2 linked regions of the Homo sapiens genome follow. The protein of the gene in region 2 interacts with the protein of the main gene of each other region in a biochemical or structural test. Each region holds a gene or a part of one and is shown on either strand. Other genes may lie near its edges. The genes, in order: PKNOX1 and POU2F1.

Region 1 (3,822 bases), on a different chromosome or scaffold from region 2:
GGCATGGTGGCTCACGCCTATAATCCCAGCACTTTGGGAGGCCAAGGCAGACAGATCACCTAAGGTCGGGAGTTCGAGACCAGCCTGAACAACATGGAGAGACCCTGTCTCTACTGAAAATACAAAATTAGCCAGGCGGGGTGGCACATGCCTGTAATCCCAGCTACTTGGGAGGCTGAGGCAGGAGAATTGCTTGAACCCAGGAGGTGGAGGTTGTGGTGAGCCAAGATCATGCCATCGCACTCCAGCCTGAGCAACAAGAGCAAAACTCTGTCTCAAAAAAAAAGAAAAAGAAAAAAACTGGACTCACAAAAGTGTATGAGACCTTAAATTTTTAAAACGAGAAATGTGTGGATTATATAAATGTTTTAAAAATCACTAAAATGCCAACTAAAAGCATAACACAATATAGCTTAAAAAATATGTAAAAACGTATGAACATAGCCAGGCACAGGGGCCCATGTCTTTAAGTCCCAGCTCCTTGGGAGGCTGAGGCAGGAGTATTACTGGATTACTTGAGCCCAGGAGTTGGAGACCAGCCTGGACAACATCATGAGACCCTGTCTCTTTAAAACACACACACACACACACACACACACGCACACACACGCACACACGTATGCATGTAAGAAACCCAATTCAAAAAGGGGCAAAGGACTTGAAGAGATATTTCTCCAAAGACATGTAAATGGCCGATGAACATGTGAAAAGATGCTCCACATCACTAATTATTAGGGAAATACAAATCAAAATGACAGTAAGATGCCACCTCAAATCCATTAGGATGGCTGCTATTAAAAAAAGCAACAACACATAAGAAAATAAGTGTTGGGTAAGATACGGAGAAACTGGAACCTCTGTACTGTTGGTAGGAATGTAAACTGATACTCTCTCCTTATTGAGTCCTTGGAAAAATAAAAAATAAATTAAATTAAAAGGAATATAAAACAGTACAGTTGCTGCGAAAAATCGGATGGAGGTTCCCTAAAAAATTAAAAACAGAATTCCAGTATGATCCAGCAATCCCACTTCTAGATCTATATCCAAAAAAATTGAAAGTAGGATCTCGGAGAAGTATTTACACACTCAGGTTCACAGTTTTATTATTCAAAATAGTCAAAAGGTAGAAGGAACTCAAGTGTCTGTTGAGGGATGGATAAACAAAATTCAGTATATCCACACAATGGAGTATTCAGCCTTAAAAAGGAAGGAAATTCTGACACACACTACAACATAGATGAACCTTAAGGACATTATGGTAAATGAGCTAAGCTGGTCACAAAAAGACAAATACTACCTAATTCCACTGGTATGAAGTCCCTATAGTAGCGAAATTCAGAGACAGGAAGTAGAATGGTGGTTGCCAGGGGCTTCAGGGAGGGGAGATGGGGAGGCAGTGTTTAATGGGTATAGAGTTTCAGTTTTACAAGATGAAGGGTTCTGGAGACAGATGGTGGTGATGGCTGTACAAAAGTATGAATGAACTTACCACCACTGAACTGCACACTGAAAATGGTTAAGATGGTAAATTTTGTTACGTGTATTTTACCATAACAAAAAATTGGAAAAAAAAGGCCAGCCACAGTGGTTCATGCCTGTAATCCTGGAACTTTGAAAGGCAACAGTGGGCAGCTCATCTGAGGTCAGGAGTTCGAGACCAGCCTGGCCAACATGGTAAAACTCCATCTCTACTAAAAATACAAAAATTAGCCAGGCGTGGTGGTGGGCACCTGTAATCCCAGCTACTCAGTAGGCTGAGGCAGGAGAATTGCCTGAACCCGGGAGGCAGAGGTTGCAGGGAGCCAAGATTGCACCACTGCACTCCAGCCTGGGCAACAGAGCAAGCCCCTGTTTCGTGGGGGAAAAAAAAGTATGCTCAAATACGTAACTAAATTTAGAAGAACGTAAAGTTTAGCAATTTAATGTTTATTAAACTTTTTTTTTTTTTTTTGAGATGGAGTTTCGCTCTTGTTGCCCAGGCTGGAGTGCAATGGCGCGATCTCAGCTCACCATAACCTCCACCTCCTGGGTTCAAGTGATTCTCCTGCCTCAGCCTCCCAAGTAGCTGGGATTACAGGCATGCACCACCACACCCGGCTAATTTTTTGTATTTTTAGTAGAGACAGGGTTTCTCCATGTTGTTCAGGCTGGACTCGAATTCCCGACCTCAGGTGATCCACCCACCTTGGCCTCCCAAAGTGCTGGGATTACAGGCGTGAACCACTGCACCCGGCCTTATGCTCCTTTTTCTTGTCAAGTTAAATTCCTAACATTTTTAATGCAAAAAAATGTACAAACCTTCATAAAATGTCTGAGAGAACATGTAACAAAACACATGCGCTCACTCAGGCATTATGTTCTGGAAACTGTGATCATAGTACCTACCAATCCACAGCCCCTTTGAGTGACCCAACCCCACTGGCAGGCCCTGCTCAAAGGGGGCCTTCCTTGTGCAGGTGTCAGAAGCTCATTCCTCCCCAAGCACCACTCCCTGGGCCAGGTAGCCCTGCAACACCCAAGGCCAGCCCCCAGCCCGAAGGTCAGCGCCTGGTAGGTGGTGTGAGGGGAAAGAGCACAGGCACTCTCTCTGAGGTGGGTGCTGGAAAAGGGAGAGTACAGGGCAGGTAAGGCTGGGTGAGCCCCCACTGTGAGGGGAGCGTACAGATGGAACAGACAGTGGAGGGCAACCACCTAATTGAAGCGGAAGGCCAAGAGCCCTGGTGCAGAACTGGATCCTGCCAGAGCACAAACCATGGTTCCATCTGCCCAGAGGCCCAGCAACAATACAGTGGTCCCAAGAATCCCATAGACTCCTGTTTTCTTTATCCCTGCATGATCCTGAACCACCTATCTCACCACCCACCCAACTTGAAGTCAGCCTGCTCCCTGCCACCCTGAGAACCCGACTAAAACAGCCAATCATTCCAGCGTCAATCGCAGACGGCAAACAGTACAATTAGCTGGGTGTGATGACACGTGCCTGTAATCCCAGCTACTTTGGGGGCTGTGGCGGGAAGATTACTTGAGCCCAGAAGCTCCCGGCTGCAGTGGGCCGAGATCGTGCCACTGCACTCCAGCCTGGGTGAAAAAGTGAGACCCTATCTCAAAATAAAATAAAATTAAAATTAAATAAAATAAATAATAAAATAAAATAAGCTGCTCTGTCCCCTTCTCAAGTCCCTGAGGCATGGCCTCAGAATCAGAGCTTTAAACAGGAGTTTTATACCACATGCCAGACAACACGTTGACTGAATTACCACACTGCCTTCTATGTGAATCTTCCAGAAACAGTAACTAAACCGGCAGGGGCTAATAATCCAAAACAAGGAGCTACCATCTGCCAAGGGCGGGAACAGGCCAGGCTCCAGACTTTGCACACTGTCACGAGCAGGGCACCGCCAGCACCAGGCCTGCTGGCTCTTTCCACCAAGGACCATGCCTCTCAGCCCTTGAGTGCTTCTCCTAACAGTTTCCAGACTGACCTTCTTCTATGTGATATGTCCACTCTACATGTCCTCCTGAACAGTGTACACAAGACAGAACCATGAGGTATCCACTCAGTGCTGCACACGGATGCAAGATGGTACTTCCCAGGGCCTGCAGCCACTTCCTTCACCCTCACCTCCAAGGACACACACTGTTAGGCTTTGGGTTCCCCTATCTGTGCCGTTTTTATTTCCTTGTCTCTTTTGTCATCAATATAATCATTTGAGGAAGTAAAGAAAGGACACCATATATTCCTACAAATGGATAGGCTGAGAGTAAATCAACTTGGTATTTGTGAACATGAATGATAAAAGGCAAAAACTTCTAGCTGAAATG
Region 2 (3,822 bases):
TCCAGCAGGCACAGGCACAGGCACAGCTGCTGGCTGCTGCAGTGCAGCAGCACTCCGCCAGCCAGCAGCACAGTGCTGCTGGAGCCACCATCTCCGCCTCTGCTGCCACGCCCATGACGCAGATCCCCCTGTCTCAGCCCATACAGATCGCACAGGTGAGTGAGGAACTCCAATAGCTGGGGCAGCAAGTGAGGAATAAAGTGGCAGGTTTTATTTAATGTTAGATTAACTTTTTGATTGTTAGTGTGGGGCCTTAACTGCCTGAGGAGCTCTAGATCAGTGAGGTAAGCGGTACCCTTCCTTACCACTGAATTAGAAATAATGTTTGTTTGCTTATTGTAGTTGATATTGTAAACATATAGCTGATTATTTGAATAACTGACTTTATATTAAGTGACAATTCTTGAATAATTAGCTGGCATATTTTTGAAGCAGGGGATTACTGTATTTATTTTAATTAGCTAATTACAGCAGACATGGATTTTTTTTCATGTGCTCTGCGGTGAATGTTGCCACCCATGTGTGAGACAGTGAGTCATCTCTGCTATGGAGTGATTAACATTATTGCATTAGAATGTTGTTTGGTTTCAATTTTCACATTTTAGGGCAAAGTATCTAGAGATAATAAAAATTTATTTAAGAAGCGCCAGGCGCGGTGGCTCACGCCTGTAATCCCAGCACTTTGGGAGGCCGAGGCGGGCGGATCACTAGGTCAGGAGTTCGAGACCATACTGGCTAACACGGTGAAACCCCATCTCTACTAAAAATACAAAAAATTAGCCAGGTGTGGTGGCAGGTGCCTGTAATCCCAGCTACGCGGGAGGTTGAGGCAGGAGAATAGCGTGAACCCAGGAGGTGGAGCTTGCAGTGAGCCGAGATCGCGCCACTAAAAAAAAAAAAAATTAAGAAGCATACACAATAGTACCAAGGAGGAAAATAAATAAAATCTTTAATCTCAAGAAGAGGAAAAAGGTATAAGTAGATATATCAGTAAAATATATGAAGAGTTATTATGAGTCTAATTGTTAGACAGCTGTCTTTATCCGTCTCAGAAAAGACTCAGAAATGGACTTAACTTGTAGCAAGAGTTTGACTAACCATTTAAAAAGAACTAATTAACTGTAAGAGTAGAGAATAAATATCAGACTAGTCTTTATACAATCTTTATCAAGATAATGTTTTGATTTTGGCCACTTTCTCATCACCAAATAAATGTTTTTAGTGCCTAAGCTGTGAGACCCTATATTAACATTAGTCTAAATAAGATAACGTTCATGAAAACACTTTGAAAATTATAAAACAGTAGGCCAATGTAAGGTGCTATTGTTGTTAGGGATTAAATTTTTATATGGATAGCTATTTTTGGTTTTAAAAAATTGAATACTTTAGAACATGTGGAAAAGGGCAAAAAAATTGAATACTGATTTTTCAGTTGAGTTAGATAAGCTGTTGTCAAATGTCATAAGTCATTATAGGCCCTTTATTGATGGAAATTCAGACATAACACGATCAATTTTTATTTAAGAGAAAGATCAATCAAATATTTAAAAACTGTTTTCTCACTTGATTTTTAAAACCCATATTGGTCTTTACATGATAAAAAACAGAAGTATATTTGTTCTGAGGGAATTTTAAAGAAACATTGAAAATTAGGCTTATCATAACAATATATGTCAGTCCACAAAAATAGTCAGTTGCAGAGGCTCCAGGTTGCTTCACGTGCTTTGTCAAGCACACACAGAGCATACCCTGTTTGGAATATGAAAGCATGCGAAGTATTTACTCTTCTTTATTTGGATGTGACAGAAGTCATCAGCTGGAAGCCTTATAATTAAGCGAACTTTTATTTCAGAATCTCCAATCCATGTTTTAATTCCAATTTTTCAGGATCTTCAACAACTGCAACAGCTTCAACAGCAGAATCTCAACCTGCAACAGTTTGTGTTGGTGCATCCAACCACCAATTTGCAGCCAGCGCAGTTTATCATCTCACAGACGCCCCAGGGCCAGCAGGGTGAGCTCCTCCTTAGAGCTTATTAGTGGTATACCAAGGCTGTTCGCTGAATGTTACACATGCATGAACTACTATCATTTTGGCCCTGAAACTATTAGACCAATGTTTTTATTAAATTTTATTTGATTATAAACTTTCGTTTAAAAAAAGTTTTGTTTTGTTTTTTGTCATAAATACCACATTATTGAAGGTTGCCCTGAACTGCCATTCATCTGCTTAATCACTAAGGAAGAACCAAGAGTTTGGCCAAAAGTCTAAGTGAAATTATTCAACATGCCAAACATAAATTGGATAAGTTGCTGCTAGTGTTTTGATTGTTTTTCATGGAAGTGTATTCAAAGAATATAGACTGAGTGTTGAAAGTATGTGCTTCTAACCATTGTTTTTTTAATTTAAGGAGGGAAGACTGCTATAATAGAAACTACAAATTTCGTGAGTTATAAAAAACATCTTTGAGTCATTTGAGTGGTAAATGTTATATAATTAATATATCAAACAACCACTCGTCTGTAAGGTCAGTTAATGTAATCAGGGTGAAGAATGTCAGAGTATCAAGGCTTCAACCCAAGGAACATTAGTGCATCACTAATGATTCTTTATTATTTCTGAGTGGGTTTTTTTGCCTTTTTTCTTCTTGATCATTCATTCCAAAATCTTTTGTCATGAAATAATTATTCTAGCATATATTCAAGATTCAGAGATAAGTAATTCAGTATTTACTTGCAGAGGGCTCACAATTTAGTGGCAGGGAAACAGACCTAAATTATGTTAGATTTGATATGCACACAATGCTATGGGAACCAAGCAAAGAGACCCCTGTAACTTTGTGCTCAGATAAGTCTTCACAGTGAATTTGGGAAAATACATTCATAGGCTTACAAAAGAGAGAATGTCAGTCTTGGAAAATGAACAGCATTTGCAAACCTTAGAAACATGGAAGAAAAATCAATAAGCTGTGTTTGAGAACTATAAGTAGTGCCTTACAACTGCAGAATAAGTTTGCATATGCAGGTAATAGTGAAATTTGAACCCAGAAAGATTAGCAGAGACCAGATCATTAAAGAACCTTAGATTAAGTTTCCAGGAGTTTGACCTTAAATCCTATAGCTTAGTGCTTCCTAAGATTTGATTTATTTAAGAGTCATTAATGGCCAGGCGTGGTGGCTGACGCCTGTAATCCCAGCACTTTGTGAGGCCGAGGCAGGCAGATCACGAGGTCAGGAGATCGAGACCATCCTAGCTAACACAGTGAAACCCCATCTCTACTAAAAATACAAAAAAAATAGCCAGGCGTGGTGGCAGGCGCCTGTAGTCCCAGCTACTCAGGAGGCTGAGGCAGGAGAATGGTGTGAACTGGGAAGGCAGAGCTTGCAGTGAGCCAAGATTGAACCACTGCACTCCAGCCTGGGTGACAGAGTGAGACTCCGTCTAAAAAATAAAAAAATTAAAAAATCACTTGAGGAATTAGAAAAGTTTCCTGAGCCCTAACCCCAACCTCCCAATTACTTTTTTTCTTATTTTTAAACTATTAGGTTCAGGGTTACACTCAGGTTTGTTATGTAGATAAACTACATGTCATAGGGATTTGATGTACAGATAATTTCATCACCCAGGTAATAGGCATAATACCTGATAGGTAGTTTTTTCGATTCTCATCCTCCTCCCACCCTCTACCCTCAAGTAGGCCCTGGTGGCTGTTGTTCCCTTCTTTGTGTACATATGTACTGAAAGTTTTATGGCTGTATAGTATTCCGTTGTGTATATGCACCACATTTTTTTTAATCCAGTCTAGTGTTGATGGATATTTA

The links.
Region 1: the proteins of POU2F1 (region 2) and PKNOX1 form a complex in vitro, tested with the Homo sapiens proteins (one study listed by BioGRID).

The regions. Positions count from the first base shown.
Region 1 is NC_000021.9:42,980,861-42,984,682, reverse strand, and holds part of PKNOX1 (homeobox protein PKNOX1), read right to left. Parts: intron 1-3,822. UniProt on the Homo sapiens protein: Activates transcription in the presence of PBX1A and HOXA1.
Region 2 is NC_000001.11:167,374,142-167,377,963, forward strand, and holds part of POU2F1 (POU domain, class 2, transcription factor 1), read left to right. Parts: coding exon 1-155; intron 156-1,887; coding exon 1,888-2,014; intron 2,015-3,822. UniProt on the Homo sapiens protein: Transcription factor that binds to the octamer motif (5'-ATTTGCAT-3') and activates the promoters of the genes for some small nuclear RNAs (snRNA) and of genes such as those for histone H2B and immunoglobulins.